Linked DNA regions of Homo sapiens: all the other regions are reported to be linked to region 3. Evidence: microRNA targets listed by miRTarBase, many of them from high-throughput screens and not tested one by one. Region 3 holds a microRNA gene; each other region holds the end of a gene's coding sequence.

What was found. Region 3 holds the annotated microRNA hsa-miR-181a-5p (AACAUUCAACGCUGUCGGUGAGU, at 1,626-1,648, shown strand). A microRNA usually pairs through its seed, bases 2 to 8, with sites in the 3' UTR of a target mRNA and lowers its output. Matches are read on the target gene's strand: a 7mer-m8 pairs with bases 2 to 8, a 7mer-A1 pairs with bases 2 to 7 and ends in A, and an 8mer does both.
Region 1: the mRNA of CFI is a reported target of hsa-miR-181a-5p. The part of its 3' UTR that is shown has no 7-base or 8-base seed match.
Region 2: the mRNA of EN2 is a reported target of hsa-miR-181a-5p. Seed matches in the 3' UTR shown: 7mer-m8 at 2,250-2,256.

The regions. Positions count from the first base shown.
Region 1 is chr4:109,737,467-109,741,466 of GRCh38, reverse strand. It overlaps CFI (complement factor I), which reads left to right. Exons shown (of 13, transcript NM_000204.5): 13 at 357-772. The coding sequence ends at 574. Among named protein-coding and RNA genes, the nearest start is that of PLA2G12A, 9.4 kb to the right of the region's middle.
Region 2 is chr7:155,462,462-155,466,461 of GRCh38, forward strand. EN2 (engrailed homeobox 2) reads left to right here. Exons shown (of 2, transcript NM_001427.4): 2 at 1-2,370. The coding sequence ends at 226. Among named protein-coding and RNA genes, the nearest start is that of EN2, 6.3 kb to the left of the region's middle.
Region 3 is chr1:198,856,605-198,860,755 of GRCh38, reverse strand. MIR181A1 (microRNA 181a-1) reads left to right here and starts at 1,603; the gene lies at 1,603-1,712. The region is part of intron 2 of MIR181A1HG (MIR181A1 host gene); the gene reads left to right. It overlaps MIR181B1 (microRNA 181b-1), which reads left to right and starts at 1,774; the gene lies at 1,774-1,883.

The sequences.
Region 1 (4,000 bases), not on the chromosome of region 3:
ATGAATGACTAATAAATATTTAGCACTCAGTAAGCACTAGGCAGTCCCATCATTTTCCTACTCAGCATTTGATGCAACTTTCAGGTTGCAATCTCATCTCAGTACTCAGTCGTATAAAGTAGAGAACACAGGAAGAACATGCTGAATTGGGGGAATAAATAGAAGACTCGTAAAGAATTTTCCAAGCTGCATCTCTGCAACTCTGCAAGCCCAGCCAGGGACTCTAAGGAGAGCCCATGCTATTGCTGTCAGGAAACTGTAAAAAAGCCAAAGTTGTTAAATGCCATGGAGGAGGCATGGCAGCCTTGAAAAATGGAAGGAAATGTGTGATTTTCTCTTTCACATTTCTTTCTTAGGTACATATGATGGTTCCATCGATGCCTGTAAAGGGGACTCTGGAGGCCCCTTAGTCTGTATGGATGCCAACAATGTGACTTATGTCTGGGGTGTTGTGAGTTGGGGGGAAAACTGTGGAAAACCAGAGTTCCCAGGTGTTTACACCAAAGTGGCCAATTATTTTGACTGGATTAGCTACCATGTAGGAAGGCCTTTTATTTCTCAGTACAATGTATAAAATTGTGATCTCTCTCTTCATTCTATTCTTTTTCTCTCAAGAGTTCCATTTAATGGAAATAAAACGGTATAATTAATAATTCTCTAGGGGGGAAAAATGAAGCAAATCTCACTGGATATTTTTAAAGGTCTCCACAGAGTTTATGCCATATTGGAATTTTGTTGTATAATTCTCAAATAAATATTTTGGTGAAGCATACAAGTTTTATTTATCAGAAAATTTTATTAAATTATCTCAATGCGGGAGTGATTTATTGACTGAAGTTACAACTAATTGAATAATGTTGGACTTACATAAGGTTGGGTTCAAATCCCAGCTCTATCACCTACTATGCCCTGGACAATTTATTGTCTTCTTTGTGTCTCCTTTTCCACCTATAAAATGGAAACTGGAATTCTGTGAAAATGAAACTACATACTTACATAAATGTTTGGCATAGTACCTGTCACAGGGTAATAACTGACTTCACAGCTCTTGTCCCATTTCCCTGCTTCCTCTTTATTTCTTTCTCATCTTTTCTCTCTTTCCTTCTTTCTTTCTCTCTTTCTCTCTCTTTCTTTCTTTTTCTCTTTTCTTTCTTCTCTTTCTCTCTTTCTTTTTTTGAGGCAAAGTCTCCCTCTGTTGCCCTGGATGGACTGCAGAAGTGCCATCATAGCTCACTGCAGCCTTGAACTCCTGGGCTCAAGCAATCATGCCACCCCAGTCTCCCGAGTAGCTGGGATTACAGGTGCACACTACCATGCCTAGCTAATTTTAAATTTTTGTAGAGAGGCATCTTGCTTTGATGCCCAGGCTGGTCTTGAACTCCTAGGCTCAAGGGATCCTCCCACCTTGGCCTCCCAAAGTGCTGGGATAACATGCGTGAGCCACCACACCAGGCCCCTGCTTCTTTAAGTATTAACATTTCTTGAAAAATTAGCCTTTGCTCCCCCATTTCACAAGCATTCCTTGACCCTCTCTCTAAACCTATCCACAGATAATTCAATACAACCACCTACCTCCATGGTGTCAGACCTCACAGTCACTTCTGTTCTCATCGCAGCAGCATTAGCCCCTCAGGGCATCACACTCCTCCCTCACTGCTGTTCTCAGCCTCTTCCTTCTGGTTGCTTCTCTCACTTTGCCTTTCCCTGGTAATCTCATCTAGACTACGTTTTAAATCCTGCCTACAGTCCGGTGACTCACAAATCTGGATCTTCAGCTCTGACCTTTCCTAGAACCTCAGATTAGTATATGCCACTGAACACTAGTATATACCATTGCCATGTGAATATCTAGTAACATTTCAAAAGAAAAGTGGTCAACCCAAACTCAACAGTTGCACTTTCTTAACCTACAGAAAATAGCACCCCCACCCGACCCCAAGGCTATTGTAGGTGCCCAGTCTCCCTCTGTCACACCACCTACTTTAATCTCAGCATAGTACTTTTCTTCCCCCAGTGTATTCTGTTTTGATTGGGTTGTCTACCTCTTCTCAACACTGTCTCCTCCAACTACAACATAAGACACATGACAAGAGAGACCTCATTTGTCTTCCTTCTGGCTACATCCCTACCACTTGCCTCATAGAGGCTGCTCAGTGAATAAACATTAGCTACTCTTTTTTTTTTTTTTAAGCACAGCTATCTTTATCCTGAAGACAGACATATATGTTTCACATAAATATTCCCTTTATTATTTTATTTAGGGCCAGTCTTGGATAGATCCCTACTGATTTAATAATATAAATACCCATTTTTACATATATTCCAAAATCAGTTACTGCCCAGATTTTCTTTTAAAAATTGTGGTAAAATATGTATAACATAAAAGTAACAATTTTAACTATTTGTAAGTGTAAAGTTGAGTGACATTAAATACATGCCCATTGTTGTACAATCATTATCACCATCCATCTGCAGAAAATTTTCATCTCCCCAAATTGAAACTTCATATCTATTAAACAATAACTCACCACTCCTCCCTCCCATGCTGCCCAGATTTTTCATCCATTAAATTCAGGAAAGTATTTGGTTATTTATTGCTGGGAAGTTCCCCTTCCAGTCTCTCATGCTGTTGCCGTCAGACAGGATTGGACCAGAGTTATCACGAAGGCTTATTCACTCATGTGTTTGGTGCCTGGGCTGGGCGGACTTAGACAGCTGGGGCTTCTCAGATATGTCTCTCTGCACTCTCCCCATGGGCTCTTAACATGGCAGGGCCGGGGGCACCAGACTTCCTACATAGCAGCCGATGAGCCTCCCAAGAGAAACTGCAGAACCTGCATGGCCTTCTCTAACCCAGCTTTGGAAGTCCCTTAGCATCACAAAGACCTGCCCAGGCTCAAAGGAAAGGAAATAACCCATCTCTTGATGGCGGCAGGGAGGAGGTGTATCAAAGAATTTATGGACATATTTGAAAACCACCTTGTCCTGACTCAGCAATCCGGGAGCAACGCAGCACCTTAGAATATGTCTGTGTATGAGATAAAAAGAGAAAAGTGGCTGGGCGCAGTGGATCATACCTGTAATCTCAGCACTTTGGGAGACCAAAGTTGGTGGATCATTTGAGGTCAGAAGTTTGAGACCAGCCTGGGCAACATAGCAAGACCCCATCTCTATCACACACAAAAAAAGCTGGGAGTGGTGGTGCACATCTGCAGCCCCTGCTACTTGGAAGGCTGAGGTGGGAGGATCATTTGAGCCCAGGAGGTTGAGGATGCAGTGAGCTGTGATTGCAGCACTGCACTCCAGCCTGGGTGACAGATCAAGACCTCGTCTTAAAAAAAAAAAAAAAAAAAAGAAAAGTACTCCAGTGCTACAAGGTGGGAAACCCAGCATATAGGGCATCCTCAGCCAATCTAGGAAGGGGGCCCCCAAAAGGGCCAAGCCAGTCTGCACAGTGACCTAGCATCTGGCAGCTTCACAGAAAAGTAGACCAGGGTCAAGCCTTGAAGGGTGAAAGTCAGCCCTCTGAAGCGACTCTATGTGACAGAGACCAGGAACAGCAGGAGTGAGATGACCTGACTCCAAGCTTCTCCTAGTTTAGAGGTCTGTCTCAGCGCTCCTAATTCCAGACTACAGAAGCCAATCTAACTGGTTTAATGAAAAAATAGATTTATTCAAAGATATTATGCAGTTCACAGAATTTCCAAAAGAGCCAGAGAATTGGAGTCTACACATCTGGAAATAACGCTCACAGACCACACTGCAGGACTGCTCCATCAGAGACTACCATGGCCACTAGCATGGGTCCCAGTCTCCACGTACAGCTTGTACTGCAGAGCCTGGGCACTGGACATTGCTGCTTCTGTGAGCTCGCCTGAAGGTGGCCAGGGACACAACTCATTGGATGTGGAGCTCTGCCATCGTCTTATATTTAACCCTGGTTTCAGAGCTCTCTGTCTTACAAGAGAAATGGGAAAATAAATTATGCGGCTGCACCTTG
Region 2 (4,000 bases), not on the chromosome of region 3:
CAAGGCCGAGTTCCAGACCAACAGGTACCTGACGGAGCAGCGGCGCCAGAGCCTGGCGCAGGAGCTGAGCCTCAACGAGTCACAGATCAAGATTTGGTTCCAGAACAAGCGCGCCAAGATCAAGAAGGCCACGGGCAACAAGAACACGCTGGCCGTGCACCTCATGGCACAGGGCTTGTACAACCACTCCACCACAGCCAAGGAGGGCAAGTCGGACAGCGAGTAGGGCGGGGGGCATGGAGGCCAGGTCTCAGTCCGCGCTAAACAATGCAATAATTTAAAATCATAAAGGGCCAGTGTATAAAGATTATACCAGCATTAATAGTGAAAATATTGTGTATTAGCTAAGGTTCTGAAATATTCTATGTATATATCATTTACAGGTGGTATAAAATCCAAAATATCTGACTATAAAATATTTTTTTGAGTTTTTTGTGTTTATGAGATTATGCTAATTTTATGGGTTTTTTTCTTTTTTGCGAAGGGGGCTGCTTAGGGTTTCACCTTTTTTTAATCCCCTAAGCTCCATTATATGACATTGGACACTTTTTTATTATTCCAAAAGAAGAAAAAATTAAAACAACTTGCTGAAGTCCAAAGATTTTTTATTGCTGCATTTCACACAACTGTGAACCGAATAAATAGCTCCTATTTGGTCTATGACTTCTGCCACTTTGTTTGTGTTGGCTTGGTGAGGACAGCAGGAGGGGCCCACACCTCAAGCCTGGACCAGCCACCTCAAGGCCTTGGGGAGCTTAGGGGACCTGGTGGGAGAGAGGGGACTTCCAGGGTCCTTGGGCCAGTTCTGGGATTTGGCCCTGGGAAGCAGCCCAGCGTACCCCAGGCCTGCTCTGGGAAGTCGGCTCCATGCTCACCAGCAGCCGCCCAGGCCCGCAGCCTCACCCGGCTCCCTCTCCTCACCCTCCTGCACCTAACTCCCTCCTCCTTCTCCTTTTTCCTCCTCTTCCTCCTTCCTCCTTCCTCCTGCTCCTCCTTTCTTCTTCTTTTTCTTCTCCTCCTCCTCCTTCCTTCCTCCTCCTCCTTCTCTTTCCTCCTCCTCCTCACCAAGGGCCCAACCGTGTGCATACATCGTCTGCGTCTGTGGTCTGTGTCGCTGTCCCCAGTCCCACCGCAGTCCTGCCGCAGGCCTAACCCTCCTGCCCTGGGCACTGCCTCCATGCAGAAGCGCTTCGAGGTTCTGGGGCTAAAGGCCTGGGGTGTGTGGCCTAAAGCCCAAGAGCGGTGGGGCGACCCTCCTTTTGGCTTGGCCCCAGGAATTTCCTGTGACTCCACCAGCCATCATGGGTGCCAGCCAGGGTCCCAGAAATGAGGCCATGGCTCACTGTTTCTGGGCGGGCAGAAGGCTCTGTAGAGGGAGATGGCATCATCTATCTTCCTTTCCTTTTTCTTTTCTTCCCTATTTTTTTCTTTTTTTCCTTTATTTTTTTCTTTTCTTGGAGTGGCTGCTTCTGCTATAGAGAACATTCTTCCAAGATAAATATGTGTGTTTACACATATGTCTGCATGCATGTGAACACACACACACACACACACACACCAGGCGTGTTTGAGTCCACAGTTCTGAAACATGTGGCTACCTTGTCTTTCAAAAGAACTCAGAATCCTCCAGGATCTAGAAGAAGGAAGAAAGTGTGTAAATAATCATTTCTTATCATCACTTTTTGTCTTTTCTTGTTTTTTAAAATATACATTTTATTTTTGAAGGTGTGGTACAGTGTAAATTAAATATATTCAATATATTTCCCACCAAGTACCTATATATGTATATAAACAAACACATTATCTATATATAACGCCACACTGTCTTCTGTTTAGTGTATGGGGAAAGACCAATCCAACTGTCCATCTGTGGCTGGGACAGCCCAGGGGGTGTGCCCACGGCTGACCCAGGGGTGTGCACACGGCTGAGCTGGGAGTCCCGCTGGTCTCCCTGAGGACTGAGGGTGAACTTCGCTCTTTGCCTTAAACCTCTTTATTTCATTGCAGTAATAGTTTTACGTTGTACATAATAGTGTAAACCTTTTTAAAAAGGAAAGTATAAAAACAAAAGTTGTAATTTAAAAGTCTGAATAACCATCTGCTGCTTAGGAAACTCAATGAAATGACATGCCTTTTTAGCAGGAAGCAAAGTTGGTTTCTGTTTTTTGTTTTCTTTGTTGTTTTAGTTTATAAAACATGTGCATTTTACAGTTCCAGTATCAAATATTTATAATCTTATGAGAAATGAATGAATGTTTCTATTTACAACTGTGCTTATCAAAATTGTGAACACCCCCACCCCCGCATTTTTGTGTGTTGAAATTCTTGAAGGTTACATTAAATAAAACAAAATCTCTTTATTATAAAATACTGAAGGTCCCAGGTGGAATGATGAGTTTTCTAAGCATGTCTGAGTCCAGAGGAACTGCCTGGGCATCCTCCCCAGTACTCAGGTGCTCATGGCCTTCGCCCCGCCTGGGAGCAGGTGCCAGGTGCCTTTGTAGCGAGAGGTGATTATTATTTTTTTTTAAATAAGACAGTTTGGATATGTCACATGTGAGCACAGAATAACCAAAAGAAGTACACATTTTGTTACCAGGAGGAAGTGTTCAAAACTACGGTGCTATTCCAGTGACTACATTTTTTTAAATTTTGCGAAGTTCAACAGGTCTCCCTCCGGCTGGGTGCTCACTGGCCCTGCCACCCGTGCTGGACCGAGGCGCTTTCCCCTGGGGACAGGAACTTTTTACTCCACTGAGACAAAGAGACTCTCCTTTTCAAAGTGTCATTTTTGTTTACCTTTTGTTGTTTCCCCCCCAAAACAAAAGACTTTGTACAACTTCCTAAGCAGGATTGGGGGAGGGATCAGCTTCGCCTGTGCTGACCGCGCCTCTGGATTCCGCTCATCAGGAAGTGTTTGGGGTCTTTGAGCGAGTGATCTACGCGTTGAATTGCTGTTTTTCCAAACTTTCATGGCTTAAAAATTTTTTTTCTTCTCCCTGTAAAAGAAACTCAGAGACTGGTGATCTGTTACCGAAGACGACTTTTTAGGCGTTTTCTGTTTCCCCAGGCAGCTGGGCCGTTGGCGTTCCCAGGCGGAAGCGGGGCCTCTGGGCTGGGCCTCTGCCCTGCCAGGAAGCGGTCTGGGGGCTGCCCCTCGGGATTTTCAGAACCCTGGAAGGAGAGAGCTGGGGTCTCACCGCGGAGACTCCCGAGTTCTCGTTGCCTGGGCCCGAGCTGCGCCCCAGGGTCATCGCTGATGGCGCGAGACCACGCATTCCCCGCGAACCCCGACTTCTGAACAGTTCAGAAAGTTCGTAGATTAAAAACCAAACAAAAAATACTGGCACAACTTCTATTGCCGTATTGGCCTCTCTCTTATTTTAATAAAAATACGGTAACATGAAGCGATCATTTTTTTAAAAATCTGTTTTCAAAGTATAACACTGAAAAGGGGCAAGGCACAGCTTTGTAAGGTAATGAGTTCCCCGTCCTCAGAGGTGTTCAAGCAGACGCTAGGCTTACAGTGGCATGGAGAGTGTTCTTTCTCTTTGGAACTGGATGAGTCCTCAGACCCTTGAAACGCTGAGTTTTTTTTTTTTTTTTTACTCCTATGTTTATTACATTTTAATCCAACAGCATATAATCTAAGCTGCTCCCTCATGGAGAGCCGCGGCTGTGCCACCTGCCTGCTTTCGCCATGGAGACCGGAGTCAGGCCTGCAGGGAAGTCGGTGCGCCTTTCCCAAGTCCTCTGCCCGCTGGTTCCTCTCGGGCCTCCCGGGCTCTGCGTGCCGCGGATCTGGACCCGGACTGCAGACACCGCCCCACGACTGGGCCCCCGGCCAGACTGTTACCCCACAGGAGGAGGGTTCCCTAAGTGTGCAGAAGAGGAAAGCTCATTTATAAAGTCCTTGCTCCTTCGAGCTGAACGACCCCCGCGCCCGAGGCCTAGCTGTGTCCCCGCCGGGCCCAGGCTGAGCTTACTCCACACTGCTCCA
Region 3 (4,151 bases):
AGTTATGCCTTTTAATTATTTGTAACTGACCTAGAGCTTTGCTTACTGGTAGGCCAAATGCATTTTGTGTTAAGGGAAAATACAGAGCATGGAGTCTTTTATCACAACATCCCTATTATACAAACGTTAGCAGATGTAGCAAGAGATGAATAGGCATGATTGAAAACAGTTGTATATTGACCTGACACTAATACCACAATAGGCAGGCAACAGAACAGGAGTGATATGCTTTCAGTCGTAATTGATAATGCAAACAAATGAATCCTCAGTCTCATGATAATATTCTTTCCAGCAGCAACACAGAAATGCCTACTGATAAAGCATTCTTCTAGGGTTTTATTCTGTGGGAGAAATTTGCTTCTTTCAAAAGAATTAAACAATGCAAAATTCAGATACATCACTGTTTCATATTCTGTGCCTATTTGTCACTTTAAAATTTACTTCCAGTTGATCTCTAGTCCCTGTTTCTCTCAAAAAAAATCTGTTGAAGTTTTCATGTAAATAGTTTGTCTAAAAGGTTAAACAATTATTGGCTTTAAAATAATTCTAAGTGACTGAAATGTAAGAATGTGTAAAAATTTGGGATACATATTTCACTAACATTTCGAGAGTAATTGCCTTGACTTGAATAGACCATTATCACCTTCAAAGTAGCATTCCAAATTATTGTGGGTTGTCCCTCCTACAGATAATTACTCTATAACCATATTAGATGCAACTTAAATGTGTGAAATAATGACTTTCTATTCTGGTTTAGATACATCCAAGGTGACTTTTGTTTTAATTGATGGTAGAAAATTATTGAAAATGGCTCTAAAAATAAATTCAGTAGAGTTCATAATAATTTTAAAATAAGCATTAATGATAAAACAGTCTTAGAAAATAAGACTATGAAAAGAATCCCTCACCCATCTACCCATAAAGAGATGTTAGATGTTAGATGTTATTTAAAATAATAGGAAATGAACGGTTTTGTAGCATACATAGATTGTATTTACCTTTCACTGTATTCATGAACTCTTTGTGCCATAAACTAAGAAAAATGTATTGAGCTGGTTTCTTCACTTATAATTTGTTCAGCATTTTCTAAATAAGATTGTTCTTAGGAAGTTATACTAATTTTAAAACCTTATTTTAGAATAAAATATAGTAAATATATAATGTAAATATAAATGATATCATCAATGCCAATTTGAGGAAATCTAAGGTAATTCTGTTTAATTTCTGTATAAGCTATATACATAATGCTTGCTTACTATAAGCGTAACAATATTTAAATTATAAGATATTGTTTGGATTTTATACCACAAAGTACTTTGAATAACAAATTGTCCCTGTCTTTAACAGTGAGATAATTCCATCTCTGGAACTAGCCCAATATCGGCCATGTTTTTGCTTAATGAAACCGATCCTTTTCTCTCATACAATGTGATGTGGAGGTTTGCCAAACTCTTTGTTGGAAGAATCATGCTTCTTATTTGTCTTCTTTTGTAGTCTTTTGAAATGGCATAAAAATGCATAAAATATATGACTAAAGGTACTGTTGTTTCTGTCTCCCATCCCCTTCAGATACTTACAGATACTGTAAAGTGAGTAGAATTCTGAGTTTTGAGGTTGCTTCAGTGAACATTCAACGCTGTCGGTGAGTTTGGAATTAAAATCAAAACCATCGACCGTTGATTGTACCCTATGGCTAACCATCATCTACTCCATGGTGCTCAGAATTCGCTGAAGACAGGAAACCAAAGGTGGACACACCAGGACTTTCTCTTCCCTGTGCAGAGATTATTTTTTAAAAGGTCACAATCAACATTCATTGCTGTCGGTGGGTTGAACTGTGTGGACAAGCTCACTGAACAATGAATGCAACTGTGGCCCCGCTTTTTGCTGTCACAATCAACAGATATTCCATCTTTGAAAGATGTGTTCAAAATAGTACTATTGTTCTTTAAGTTTTCCAATTCGTCAGCATCTTCTGGTTTATTTATTCAATTTATATCATGTGATGAGATTTCAATGAAAAAGACTCTGGTTTAAACAAGAATAATGCTTCTCTATCTTTTGTATGCTATAAACAGAGCATGTTTTAGAAAAGGCAAAACTATTTTGTCCATCAAACGTACAGTATCATCATCTAGGTTAGCTCACCTTCCTACTGTTGTAGTGTGAGTGAAAAAAAGACATAAAGTAGGACCTCAGCACCCATGCCATTGACAATAACACACTTACAAATATGTGTTCTTTACAACTTTTGTTAGATGTTCTGGTCAAAGTGGGATAGAAACACCAGATAATTTTAGCTTTCTGCTTCTCTGGGTGAGGATTTGCTCATATAATTCTGCCTCTTGCTATGTAACATGCTAAATACGAAGAAAATAATATATACATAACTATATAACTATCAGAACACTCATGACAGTCATATAGTAGATTGATTTTCCCAATTCAATTTCCACTTTAAAACTTTACCCACTTTCTATGTGCATGAACTGCGTGGTTAGACTTACAGTCATGGCCCATTAATTGCCTCATGTTTACTCATCTGACTTTGCAAGTAAAAGCCTATGCATATCATGGTTTTTCTTAAGTGGTTTGCCTCTGCATTTTTATATAGGACATCTGTCATTAAATTTGATCACAGCAGTTTTAAGTTTACCATTTGTAATGATAATAATTATATAGCAAAATAAAATGCTTTCTCAAGTGTCTATGTTTGGAGTACCTGGATGGCTTCAATGTTCATTTTTTTTTAATGGTCAAATAAATTATCCTTTCTTTTCCTTGATCTTTTAAATCCCATTTGCCTTTAACTCCCATTACAGAAACCCATTGCTGGGACCCGGCTCTTGACCTCATCATAACCTTAAAATATTTTACCACATTCGATATCTAATATCCCACTCTGTCTATCACTTCTTACCATTCTAGTTTCTCATTCTCTTATCTCCAAGGCAACTGTCCTTTCAATATCAGTGTTGCTGAAAAATAAAATCACATCATCATATGGACACATTAATACACATACTCAGGGGCCTCCAAGTGCCTCAGTCCCTCAACTCTGACCCAGCATTTCTTCTACTCCACTCCCTCATGTTTAGCCTAAATGTTTACCTCTTTCCTCAACTGCTCCTTTCCACGATTCCACTCTCAACAGATGAACTGACTTCTGTTTTTCATTGAGAAGCTTGAGTCCATGTGATTATTCCCTCCACTTCCTTGTTTATAGCCTATGAATGCGTAGGATTCTGCCCTGAGTTGTCTCACGTGAGCCTCCTGCCTTGCTTGGGACATCTCTTCCCCTGTGATATCCCCCTCCTCTCTCACCATCTGGCTCCATTTCACATGTAACAAGGTTCAGTTTTCTCTCTTCTCAAATAGAAAACAAAAGAAATTTGAGAAAAACTTCTCTATACTTGCTTTATCCTCAAGTTACTTACCCCACTTCTTTTCTTCTTTTTAAAAGCTAAGATTTTAGAAATAGTACATAGTAGCCTGCAGCACTGTCTATATTTGTTTACTTCCCATTTCACCTCAACTATATGTAATTTGGCATCTTCTACCATTTCTCTCTCCCACTTGTGCATAACATCATTCTAATGACACTGCTTTTCCCCAAATCACCAGTGAGCTCCATATTGCCAAATACAAATCAAACTTTTCTGCCAGTTGTCCTACTCGAACTCCCCTTGATGCCTGACACAGCTGACCACTTCTTCCTAAACTCCAGTCCCCATTCACTTTTGTGATCCTACTCTCATTTGGATTTCTCTCTTTATTACAGTGATGTCCTATTTATTTATTTATTTTTAAGAAGCTCTTCATCTGCTTGAACTCCCAATGCCAGTATCCTTCTGAGACCCATTCTTAACTTTATGGCTTTTTTTCTCTTCTCTTGTCTCACAATCTTTGAAGGAATCTCAGGCACGTGAATGATGTTTACATCTGCTCAGATGCTGCAGATACCCAAGTCTTTATCTCCAGCTTACACATCCCAAAGCTACATATCTGTCTTCTGCTCTTCTCACAGACCAAAGCCCATCCATGACTACAGATAACGTATCATCTTTTTCCCAAGGGATAACACTCTTGATCTACTTGGAAACCAAAGCCATAAATCTCAATTCATTTCATGTTCCTGGACCTTGCTTCCT